Linked DNA regions of Homo sapiens: all the other regions are linked to region 2. The links come from fine-mapping of genetic effects on gene expression. A gene starts in region 2. Each other region holds a variant in brackets. All regions are shown on one strand. Distances are between the middles of the regions.

Region 1 (4,118 bases), 85 kb after region 2:
TGGGGAAGATTCGAGTCCTGCCTTGGGGCAGGTGAAAGGAGGGCAGGGGAAGGACAGAGAGATTCTGTTTCCTGAGGCTTAACACACCCAACATTATAGTGAAAAGACTGGAACAAGGTCTGTGGAGGTTATGAGCCAGGAACCGTGGATTAAACACACACACACACAAACACACACACACACACACACACACACACACACACACACACCTACCTCAATAGGAAAGGCTGGATCAAGAGCAAAAATGAAGGCCTAAAGAAGGAAGCGAAGAAGGAAGTGAATTCACGAGGTGCCTACACTCAGATACTATAGAGACCTCAGCCTGAAATTGTACATCAAATGCGGAGGGGCTGTTGGGCCATGTTAGCCGCACATTCCACATTCTCTGCTCTATCCTCTGCATCAGGCCACGTCACCAGAAAGCTGTGTCCTTGTTCTGGGTTCCTTTATCTCCCTCTAGTTATACCCTTCTAGGTCTGGGGATTAACATTCTGTTTGTATTGAGGGTGGATATGAGGAACAGACACCTGTACCTTCTGTAAAACCATTTTGTAAGCTACCCTTTCAGTAGGTGACACAGGACAACCTGAAGATTGTATAGATTCCTCTTAGTGTTTGATGATAGGAGGAAGCTTGTTTTATCAGGCAGGCTAATATGCTTTTCTTTTTTGCCCAGGCTGGAGTGAAGTGGCACGATCTCAATTCATTGCAACCTCTGCCTTCCAGGTTCAAATGATTCTCGTGCCTCAGCCTCCTGAGTAGCTGGGACTACAGGTGCATGCCACCATGCCCAACTAATTTTTTTTTTTTTTTTGTATTTTTAGTAGAGACAGGGTTTCACCATGTTGACCAGGCTGGTCTTGAACTCCTGACCTCAAGTGATCTGCCCACCTCAGCCTCCCACAGTACTGAGATTACAGGCATGAGCCACCATGCCTAGCCTGGCTAATAAGCTTTATATTTAGATACAATGGGTTATGAAACTCAACATATTTCCAGTTTTGCCTTCAAGAAATCCAGGGTTAAAATGTTTTGCTGTTTACAGCATCCATCCTAGGCCTGAGTTTTCTAGCAATGTTTTTCTGCCACTGTTTCCTGCTTTCCACCCTTTACTCCCCTTATATGGCTTTAGTTGGGGTATAAATAAATGAGTGATGGATCTCGGAACCTCTGCTCTTCAGTTTTGCTTGTAAAGACAATATAGGGTACTTTGTATGGGAGAAACAGATACTTAAAAAAAATTATGTTAGAAACAGCATTGTGTTTAAAGGGCAGTGTGCTCAGGTGAGTGAATTTGATTAAGGATTGGCGTTCAGCTCTGCTGAAAGGGATTTAAGTGTCAACCTACAGGAGCCTGAGTCTGGTGGTTATGACGTCCAGGCCAGGTTCCTCCTGTGAATGTGATTAGAGCCTCTAACTCAGCTCCTTGTTTCCCGAGTTCTCCATTTCCAAACTGAAGCTGCTTTTAGAAGCTGTTTTATTTAGTCCTGCCCATGTGAGTGAGTGAGTGCTTTGAGCTTATTCACATATCATCCTCAGGACCTGAACGCCTACAAGAAGCAAGGGATAGCATTGCTGACCAGAATGGGCGAGTCAGTCAAGCACGTCACTGGCGGCTACAAGCTGAGGACTCGGCCGCTTGAGTTTGCTGCCATAGGTGACTACTTAGATACATTTGCACTCAAACTGGGAACCATTGATCGAATAGCCCAGCGGATCATCAAAGAAGAAATAGGTGAGCTGTCTGTTGAGGTCTCGATTATGCCCTGCAGCCACATTGGCAGAAATGCCATTCATGTGTGCTACAGAGAATCAAACTGCAAAATGCTGGAGTGACAGAACTAGGCCATCTTTTGCTTATCAAAGAAATACAAGGAGGGGAGGAGTTACTTGTGACTGGAATGTCACTTTGCACCCCGTCCTTTGTCCTGCTGTGTCAGCCTTGTGTTTGCTTTTCCCATGGCCAGCACTGCTGATTCGCCAGGTGTTTCCT[C/T]TTTTATGCTCTCTTAACTTTAGCTTTAAAAGTGGAGACATAGACTCAACTGCCCTTCATCCATAGGGAACAATAATTTAGTAAACAAACTTAGATACCTTTTCTGGCAGAAAGATGGTTCAGAAAGATAGCATGGAGACCTGTGTTTGCCAAAGTTATGACCCTGATGAATCTTCAGACTTGTAATTGACTCACCCACCCCACCGTGGTTCATTTTAAACCCACTCCTGCATGGGGGAGTTGCCAGGGCCTGTATTGATCCTTCCTCGTTTTTGCCTCCACTTCCTTCCCACCCCTCTCGGGGCCACCTGCTTTGCCACATCCCATAATGTTGGGATCTTTTATCTCCTTACATATGCATGGGGCGGACAGACGTGAGCAGTGTAAATGATCGCACTGGCATGGGAAGCACGTTGAGGATTCCCCAGCAGTTGCCATTCATCGGTCACTAAGCCATGATGACTGTGTTCTGTTGCAACAATGGCAAGACTCTTGGTGACAAATGATGGGCCAGATTTTCTTTACGGGGGAAAAAAATCAACATTTTTTTTTTCTCATTTCTTGTACTTGTTCCCTCTACTTGACCCACTGATGATACCATGTGGGGCCCATAGGTTTTGGAGATAGCTGTGGATACCATCCACACCTAAGGATCTTGCAGAGTAAATTCTGATGGGATCCAAGGGGCTGAGGTGGCCACCGAGTGATAGAGTGAGTCTGCCAGTGTAAGACCACATCTCTTGTATCAAAATGTTTCCTAAAATTCCATTGTTTATCCATTGTGACTGTTTTTGTTTTTCGTTTTTTGGTTTTTGGTTTTTTTTTTGAGACAGAGTCTTGCTCTGTCGCCCAGGCTGGAGTGCAGTGGCACCATCTCGGCTCACTGCAAGCGCCGCCTCCCGGGTTCACGCCATTCTCCTGCCTCAGCCTCCTGAGTAGCTGGGACTACAGGTGCCCGCCACCACGCCTGGCTAATTTTTTGTATTTTTAGTAGAGATTGGGTTTCACCATGTTAGTCAGGATGGTCTCGATCTCCTGACCCCATGATCCACCCACCTCGGCCTCCCAAAGTGCTGGGATTACAGGTGTGAGCCACCGTGCCTGGCCCCTGATTTTATTTTTTAACCTTTAAAAACATCTCCCTAAACCTATATGAAACTCTGCCTCCATTGCCTGTTAAAATACTGCTTCACACTATGGGTAGGCGAGTGGTTCTTTTCTTTTTTTTTTTTTTTTTTTTTTTGACGGAGTCTCGCTTTGTTGCCCAGGCTAGAGTGCAGTGGAGTGATCTTGGCTCACTGCAACCTCTGCCTCCTGGGTTCAAGCAATTCTCCTGCCTCAGCCTCCTGAGTAGTTGGGACTATAGGCGCCTGCCACCACACCCGGCTAATTTTTTTGTATTTTTAGTAGAAACGGGGTTTCACTGTGTTAGCAGGATGGTCTCGATCTCCTGACCTTGTGATCCACCCACCTTGGCCTCCTAAAGTGCTGGGATTACAGGTATGAGCCACCACCAGGCCAGCGAGTGGTTATTTTCGAAGATGTTTGGTGGATGTGGCTGCTACTGCTTTTCCCCATAAGGCCCATTATCCAGAGGGATGGCATTCCCATCACGGGATGGAATGGATTGATGTAACATGAGCTGTCAGAGGTTTTTAAGCAGTTGTGCTAGAAACAGTGTTGTGTTTAAAGAAGAGTGGGATCAGGTGAGTGAATGGCCAAAGAAACACATGTTCATGTAGAGAGCTCTTGGCTGTGGTGATTACTGAGTCAGTAATAGCAGCAACTGCTACCCAGCCAGATTTTAATTAGTTTCTGTTCCCTGTTCAGAGTACCTTGTGGAGCTGAGAGAATACGGGCCTGTGTACTCCACATGGAGCGCCTTGGAGGGTGAGCTGGCTGAACCCCTGGAGGGTGTGTCAGCTTGCATTGGGAACTGCTCTACAGCCTTAGAAGAGCTGACAGATGACATGACAGAAGACTTCCTACCTGTGCTCAGGGAATATATTTTATACTCTGACTCCATGAAGGTAAGCTGGCTTGCTTCTTGTGTATTTGCATACTTTCTTTGTAATAGCAGTTATCAGAAAGTAATGGATTATTGCCTGTTTGCATGTGATATAAG
Region 2 (4,118 bases):
TAATCCATACGGATGTCCATTATATTTAAGGCAGCCTGGTTGTTAAAATAAGTAGCACCATTCAATAAGAAAAACCGATGTTATACATCTATAGATGTATATACTCATTTCTAGAAATACTCATTTCTAGTTATATTGTGCTATTCATTTTCATGCTAATTCAGAAGAACAGATAATAGGGTCTGTAGTAGTTGTAAGCAGCCCTTGAATGTGAAAGTGTTAACAATTTTAATCCAACTCCAAGAGGACCAGAACTTGGCATTCCTTAGATGCAGCATTTAAAATTGTTCCCAGTGCCCTTTGAATGCTACTTTTCCCAGCCAAGGCAGGCTTATGTGGAGGAGATAAAGATGATAGCTTGAGGACTAAGGGTCCAACCCTATATAAATTACATTGGGGGAAATAGGGGAAGGTCTTTGAAGCTCAGAGTCTCTGACTGATATTTTGGGTAGATTTCAACCCTCTGCATTCTCTTCTATTTGTTTCTAGAGAAAACTGTGGTAGAGGCCTTAGTGAATCCCAGAGTCAACATCTGTCATCACCTTTTAGCAGGTAAGGCTAGGCAAACCTTTGAGTTTGGAATGGGTAGGGAAAATGTGGTCCCTCACGATGAGCCTCCCTACCCATTACTTTGCTAGAGGGACTGAAAACCCTTTAAAGACTTGGCCTTGGAAACAGAAGATCTAGGGACAGGTAAGGTGGAAAAAGGAGGTGAACCTACACCCCAAAGGGCTGGAAGTAACACCTTGACTATTTGCACCACGCCAGCAAATAAAGCTGAGAATCAGCTCAGCCCAAGGCCTGGAAAGGAAGCACAAATGCATGAAGAATAACTTGAACCTCATGGTTCTTTCAAAAGTCTCTTCGGCCAAAGTGTGAGTTGAAGAGTCGCATATCATTTGAGACTCTCTACTCATGCTCGCTGTTCTGAGGTTTGACTTTACACAAATCCAGCTCAGCTGCAGAAGCAAGCCACAATGGGGACCTCAGAGTGAGCCTGAAGACTCCCCACACCGCCTCTTTGAAGTCCCTTCCAGGTTCCCCACCCGATGTCCTCTAGCTCATTTGAGCCTTGTCGCCCTTTATGCTATTCTTCCGATATGGGTCGTAATTCCGTCTATCTAGGGTTCTTCCTGCGCGTGCCTTAGAGGCCAGAAGACCCTGACTCACGTGCGTGTCCTCAAAGCCCCCAGCCCCAAGCGTGGCTGCTGGTGGGCGCATCAGTAAACGCGGGTGGAACGGAACAGGCTCCTCCAACCTCTTTTCCACCTCTGATTTCCGTTAGACATTTGCTCCGCACGGCGGCCTCCGCGAGGCAACGTTGGACACTGGGAGGACAGCCGCAGAGGCCCAGGGCGCACTTCCTGCCGGGCGGGGGCGGGGCCGCGCCTCCTCCCTCCCTCCCTCCGTCCTTCCTTCCCCACGTGCCCCTTCCCCGCCCTCCCCGCCCCCTCCCGGGCGGCCGCGGCGCCTCGGGGGCGGGGCCGGAGCGGGTGGGCGGTGTGGCTGTGTGGGCTGGGCGCCGCGGCCGTGCTGCCAGCGGACCCGCGGCGGGCTCGGGCGCGGAGCGGGGGCGCGCGGCGCGGAGCGGAGCGTCTGAGCGCCGGCAGAGACCAGCCGGCGGGTGGCGGCGGCCCCCAGCACGGCCGGTGCAAGGCCTCGGGTTAAGCGGCGGCCGAGCGGGGCTCGGCCCGGGGTGCTCGGGGAGCTCGCCGCGGCGGGCAGCAGGAGGAAGCGGCGGCGGCGCGTCCCGAGCGGTGCGCGCCATGGCGGGCGGGCCCCCCAAGGCCCTGCCGTCCACGGGGCCCCACTCCCTGCGCGACATGCCGCACCCGCTGGCCGGCTCCAGCAGCGAGGAGGCCGTGGGTGGTGACAGCACGCCCAGCCCGGACCTGCTGATGGCCCGCAGCTTCGGTGACAAGGTGGGGCGCCTGGGGCCGGGGAGTGGGAGGCTTATTTCGCTCCCCGTGGGGGGGATGATGGATCCGGAGCCTTCGTGGGCCTGGGGCCGCGCCCACCCTGCCGCCCCTTCCCGGGGGACGGGCGTGTCCTGGCCCCGGAGCCCTCGGCGAAGCGTCTCCTCTGCCGCCTCCGCGGGGTCGCAGCCGCAGAGGGACAGGCTTCGCTGCCTGTGACTGGTCGCAAGCACCGGTGACAGCTGGTGGGGAGGGGTCCAGCCTGCGTGTTGGAGCGGGAGGCGTGTGTTCAGGGCAGGGCGCCTGTGTCCTCGGATGGGGTTCCGAGTTCCTCCAGGTGCATCCCTGCAGGCTGAGCTGCTGCATAACTTGTAGCTCCTCCAGTTTCCGAGACTGCACAGAAAGCAGGAGTTCCTGGCTTTCCGTGCTGGGACCGGGCAGCCCTGGGCTTACAGCGAGAGTCTTCTTCCCCCTAGTCAGTCATGTGGGGAGTGATCTTTGTTTAGGTTTGCTGTTTGTCCTGAGGAGTCACCTGACTCAGACCCCAGCCGGCGGCGGGAGGAGAGCCTCGTTGTGGTTTTCTGTCTGGGGCTCCATTCACCTCCGACGGCCTACCACTCTGTTTAGGTTTGGCAGAGGCTGGTTTTGTGGTTGATGGAAAGAAAGCTCGCCCTTTGACCTTCTTTGTACGGAGGGAGGCTCCAGATTTTCTTAGAGCAGCACAACCCTCCTGCTGCTTGGAGAGACAGCAGAGTCCAGGCAGGGGTAAGGGACGACCTCCTCCCTACCCCCATGGCCATTTCAGCTGTGAAGGAGACTTGAGCAGTGATTGTATCCCCGCTCCTGCCGTCACTTAGTCACTAACTGCAGAAATTAGAATTGTTCTCAGGTCTTGTGATCAAGATTTTCTCTCCCTAGTAAAATACTAAATGAATTCCCCCTTGTCCCAATATTAATGGGAGCAGGGGACCTAACTTTCTTCTCCCGTTAGAGGGGACACCATGTGGTACAGTGAAAAAGGAGTATGAGAAAATATAACCTGCCCTCCTTGCAGTCAGAAGGTCACTGAGCACTTAAAATCACTAGAGAGTGCGACTTGATGTACCTTCTGCAGAGGGTTTGTGAAAGCAGGGAGTGAAGTTCCAAAGCATTAGGAACAGGAAAATTAAAAAAGCTAATGGAGGCCAGGTGCAGTGGCTCACACCTGTAATACCAGCACTTTGGGAGGCTGAAGTGGGATGATTGCTCTGAACCAAAAGTTTGAGACCAGCCTGGGCAACATATCGAGACCCCGTTTCCACATACGCACACAGCATGGTGGCATGCACCTGTAATCCAGGCTACTCAGGAGGCTGAGGCGGGAGGATTGCTTGAGCCTGGGAGTTCAAGGCTGCAGTGAGCTATGATTGCACCGCTGTACTCCAGCCTGGGCAAGAGAGTGAGACCCTGTCTCCAAAAAATGTTGAATAACTGAATAAATTTGCTTTCTTATCGACAAAAATTGGTCTTAAAATAGTGTAGGAACTGGGGGTTAAACCTCATTTCCTTCTCAGTTCTGTGTGGGACACTGAATTAATTATCTATTGCTGTGTAGCAAATTACCCCAAAACTTATCACCTGGAAATAGTGTCTGTGGGACAATCTGAGTGGTTCTGAATTAGGCCTTTCTTGAGGTTGCAGTCAAGTTGTTGGCTTGGGCTGCAGTCATCTGAAGGCTGGATTAGGGGAGGATCCACTTCTAAGCTCACTCACATGGCTGTTGGCAGGTCTTAGTTACTCTCCATAGGGCTGTTTGATGTGGCAACTGGTTTTTCCCCCCAGAGCAAGTGATCCAAGAGAGCTCAAGACTCTAGCCAGTCTTGTATAACTTATCTTGGAAATGACATGCCTCTGCTGTATTCTGTTGGTCACACAGATTGACACTGGTACAATGTGGGGAGAGGGTGTGAATATCAGGGTGTGTATACCAAGAGGTGGGGATCATTGGGCCATCTTGGAGACTGGCTACTACAGATAGCCATTTAAAATATTTACCTAACGATTCACTCATGGATGATACCTGACTCAGAAGTATGAGCATTTTACTAATAAGCACTTGGAAGACAAATTCCCCGTACCACCAAGATCTGGTTAGTGGTGAAGAAGTCAGTCTCAAGTCTAATTACCGATGGCTTCCTTTAAAGGGTCTGTTCTGTGTAGGAG
Region 3 (4,118 bases), 60 kb after region 2:
CCCAGCACTGTGGTCCAGTAGCATGGCCTGTGTGGTTGAAACTGACAATACAGAAGTAGGCTTGAGGGTGAGGAAACAGAGGCGAGCCTTCAATTCCCTTCAGGGTTTATTATTTTCTTGTGTTTAGCCTCATTACCAGTGGTGTGTAAAAAAAAAAAGAAAAAGAGTCATAACACCCCAACTAGTTCCTCTTTCTAAATGCCTCAGTGGTCAACAGAGTCTAAATGCTGCTCCGAGGCTGAATTATGTACAATGCAAAGTGGACGTTAGTTTAATGACACAGTTATTGCTGGTTGTGGTGTGAGCAGTTTCATTGGTGTAGTGATGCAGAACCCAAGTGGGTTAGAGTGAGCGAGGGGTAAGAGAGAGAAGAGTGTTAGAATTCTGGCAATGAAAACAAGCATAGAGAGCAGTGGTCAGAAGTGGGCATGGGTTTGAGGGAGAGGGAGGCTTTTTTTTTTGGACTGCTGCTGTTTTTAAGGATGAAAGAGACTTGTTTAACTGCCAGTTGCGCAGTATTGGTAGAGAAGAAGGCATTAGGTTGAAGATTGGAGAGTAGGATGGAGGCTCCTGGGAAGGCGGAGGAAGCTAGAATTGCCACCGAAGGGGCGGTGTACTTTTTCCATTGTTTGTGGAGAAGGAAGGGAAGTTTGTTTTGTGGCAGGAAGTTAAGGGGTTCTTTGCTTATATCTGGAGTTTTCTCTCTGAATAGATGATGAAGCCTTCTAAGGGTGGGGGTGGTTTGAAGTGGGGATTAGAAATTTTCACAACTTTTATGGGCTTTTTGATAAATGATTTGGACAGTGTGGGAGTGAGCTGACGTAAGGGAGTATGAAAAGGGTGCCTGGCAATGTTGGAGGGTCTGGTTGTAGAATGTATCGTGTCTGTCCGTGTGTTTGCTTGATTTTGTTTCTCCTCTAGCAGTGTGCTCACACACCCAGGTCTGGTAGAGCAAGTGGGTTTTTACGAGTTGGGTGAATGGGCAGTGGGGAGGGAACAACATTTAGATATTGCTGTAAGTGATTGAAGTTCTGGGCCATGGAATGGATGCTGAGTAAAGAAGGAAGGAAGTAAAGACATGAATGGATGGAATGTCAAGGAACTTTAGGTCCCAAGAGGCTGAGAAACCAAGGATGTTGGGAAGAGGAAGAGCCTGAAATATAGGGGATGCCGTTTAGAGGGAGATGTGTGGGTTTCTCCCTGGTGACGGTCTGGGAGAGGCTGTGGAATGGAAGGAAACATTGCTTGCTTAGAGGCTGGTGTTGTATGTATGAGCCACCTGGATCTCGAGGGCACTTAGGTTGTGGAAGGGCTTGGAAAGGAAGCCTGAGAGCCAGCTGCTTGAATCTTCAGGGCATCAGGAGAAATGGCAGAGCTGTCAGTGGATGACAGCTGTGCGGGAGAGATACAGGATGTATGTCACTGGATGGCACGAGCCTCAGAAGGGTTTTCACAGGGCGGTTGGGGAGTGGTGGTCAGGAGCTGTGTGGAACGAGGAGCATGTCAGCAGCAGCTCCTGGCCTTGGGGGCTGGGCGAGGCTTGTGGAATGCGAGCAGCTCACAGAGGGACCGATGGCAGGGAGGCCCGATTCTCAGGGAGAGCCAGGTTTCAGAATTTGAATGGGCAGAAGAACGACAAGACTTTATTAACTATGGCGTGGGTCTTCCAGAGAGCTTGGCAGAAAGATCTGAGAGGAACGAGATAAGTGGAAGTCCATGTTGGAAGAAAGGAAGGCAGAGGAGCGTGAGGATGAAAGGCTGGAAGCCTCTACTTGTCATTCTCAGGGCAGTGGGGTTTTGAGGCAGAATGGGACTAGCTGGTTTTTGTTTGATAAGGGAAGAGATCCCTTTGTTGGGAGATGGGGGTTGCCTAGAATTCTTAAGACCCAGCTGTGGCCTGGACAGATGGCACTTGTGATAAAGACCACGTCTCTCTGGAGTGACTCAATTGTAAATTTTGGATCAAATGGACGTTCTTCGGAACGGCCTTGGGCCACAGTTGTTGGGCATGTCAGCTCTTGGGGCATAAGGGGAGACCTTATGTGGTAGGGTGAGTGGGGCCCAGTAGGTGGAGTGCCCTGCTGGATGACCGATTAGACTGTCATTCTGTGCTGGGTCTTCTAAAATGTTGAACTTCTGAAGGAAAAAAAAATTTCCAGGGATGTCTGGAGATGACCAGGGACGTATCCACGTGGAGTGATGGTGTTACACTTCTAGCATAGCAAAAATGAGCCTTCTTGACTATGATTCTTGTGCTTGGTCACCTGTTCTTAGACCTGACTGTACATGTGCGCCCGTGACCTTG[T/A]GATCTTTGGACATTCTGCATTGTGGACACACGATGTGGAAGGACATAGAACAAAATGATGTAGTGGTTGTCTCTGATTATGGAATTGTGTGTGTATGCTTTTCGTTCTTTTAAAAAATTGTTTACTATAGGTATTCAAAAATAGAGATAAATGTATATTTTTAAATTTTCCTAAGTTAGATCCTGAATTTCATGGAGGAAAAATTTACTACAAACTTATCTTTGGAGTTTTACTGGTCTGCCTGTTTTATGAATACTGTGAGTCCTATAAATGTGTTTCTCTCCAGAAATTCCAAGTAGTGTCTCTGGCCCAGTTTCAGCTGGTGTGCAGTGTTTCATTGTGAGTGTGTTTTGCTAGCCTCATTCCTGGCTCTACTTTTTCCCTCTGTCCTTGTTTTTTCTTTCCTTTTCACCTACTTCTAATTTATGTCATTTGATTGTATTTTACCTATCACTATATCTTTTCTAGAACAAATTGTGGTAAAAATAAGTAAAATAAATACTGGGTCAGAGAGTGTGCAAGCATCCATTTATTTATTTATTTATTTTTTGAGACGGAGTCATCCTGTGTCACCCAGGCTGGAGTGTAGTGATGCGATCTCGGCTCACTGCAACCTCCGCCTCCCAGATTCAAGCAATTCTCCTGCCTCAGCCTCCCGAGTAGCTGGGACTACAGGCATGGACCACCGCACCCGGCTAATTTTTGTGTTTTTAGTAGAGATGGGGTTTCACCATGTTGGCCAGGCTGGTCTTGAACTCTTGACCAAGTGATCTGCCCACCTTGGCCTCCCAAAGTGCTGGGATTACAGGTGTGAGCCACCGTAGTGGACCTTGAGCATCCCTTTCATGATAACTTCTTACGTTATTGCTTTCCAAAGCATCAAGCAGGTTTTTCTTGCTGTATTAAGTTCCCAATGTCCTTAAAGGAGCTTTTAAAAAATGAGCATTGTGTGTGTGTGAGACTATAAAAATAGTGTATGAGAATGGTGTAAAATTTGGAAATAAGAGTGAATATAAAGAGGACAGTTCTCATTATTAGCTTTAAATTTTTCTTCTAAATTTTTTAATATCCAGATATTAATGTAAATGAAATCCTTATGTACAATTAATTTTGTATCCTCCCATTTTCCCTTAAAACAACAGGCCGGGCATGGTGCCTCATGCCTATAATCCCAGCACTTTGGGAAGCTGAGGTGGGTGGATCACTTGAGGTCAGGAATTTGAGACCAGCCTGGTCAACATGGTGAAACCCCGTCTCTACTAAAAATACAAAAATTATCTGGGTGTGGTGGCGCACGCCTGTAGTCCCAGCTACTTGGGAGGCTAAGGCAGGAGAATCACCTGAACCTGGGAGGTGTGGAGGTTGCAGTGAGCCGAGATCATGCCACTATACTCCAGCCTGGTCGACAGAGTGAGACTCCATCTCAAAAAAAACCCCCCAAAACAACAATGTCTTATACCCTGGTTGTGGTGGCTCATGCCTGTGATCCCATCACTTTGGAAGGCTGAGACAGAGGATTGCTTAAGGTCAGGAGTTAGAGACCAGCCTGGGCAACATAGTGAGACGCCTATCTCTACAAAAAAAACAAACAAAAAAACCACCAAAAATCAGCCAGATATGGTGGCATGTGCCTGTAGTCCAGGTACTTGGGAGGCTGAGGTGGGAGGATTGCCTGAGCCCAGGAGTTTGAGGCTACAGTGAGCTATGATTGTGCCACTGCCTTCCAGCCTGGGGGACTGTATTTAATTTTTTTTTTTTTTTTTGCGAGACAGTCTCACTCTGTCGCCCAGGCTGGAGTGCAGTGGCGCGATC

Which allele goes with the higher level. Alleles are on the strand shown, and positions count from the first base shown. SD is a standard deviation of normalised expression in the study named. Not every link is listed here.
For the expression in monocytes of the gene that starts at base 1,525 in region 2, A is the high allele of the variant in region 3 and T is the other (moderate effect, 0.44 SD a copy in Fairfax 2014).

The links. PIP is the estimated chance that this variant, and not a neighbour inherited with it, causes the effect.
Region 1: its variant is the best candidate, but not a certain one, in a credible set for the expression of SNX30 in monocytes (TOPMed, PIP 0.55).
Region 3: its variant is the best candidate, but not a certain one, in a credible set for the expression of SNX30 in monocytes (Fairfax 2014, PIP 0.66).

The regions. Positions count from the first base shown.
Region 1 is chr9:112,834,675-112,838,792 of GRCh38, forward strand. It overlaps SNX30 (sorting nexin family member 30), which reads left to right. Exons shown (of 9, transcript NM_001012994.2): 5 at 1,540-1,735; 6 at 3,824-4,023. Among named protein-coding and RNA genes, the nearest start is that of SLC46A2, 54 kb to the right of the region's middle. The variant C/T (reference allele first, on the strand shown) is at 1,994.
Region 2 is chr9:112,749,236-112,753,353 of GRCh38, forward strand. SNX30 (sorting nexin family member 30) reads left to right here and starts at 1,525. Exons shown (of 9, transcript NM_001012994.2): 1 at 1,525-1,922. The coding sequence starts at 1,767. It overlaps SNX30-DT (SNX30 divergent transcript), which reads right to left and starts at 1,330. Exons shown (of 1, transcript NR_186503.1): 1 at 1-1,330. RefSeq lists a silencer at 1,283-2,102 and enhancers at 1,372-2,293, 2,294-3,213.
Region 3 is chr9:112,809,418-112,813,535 of GRCh38, forward strand. All of the region lies in intron 2 of SNX30 (sorting nexin family member 30), which reads left to right. Among named protein-coding and RNA genes, the nearest start is that of SNX30, 61 kb to the left of the region's middle. RefSeq lists an enhancer at 1,133-2,043. The variant T/A (reference allele first, on the strand shown) is at 2,306.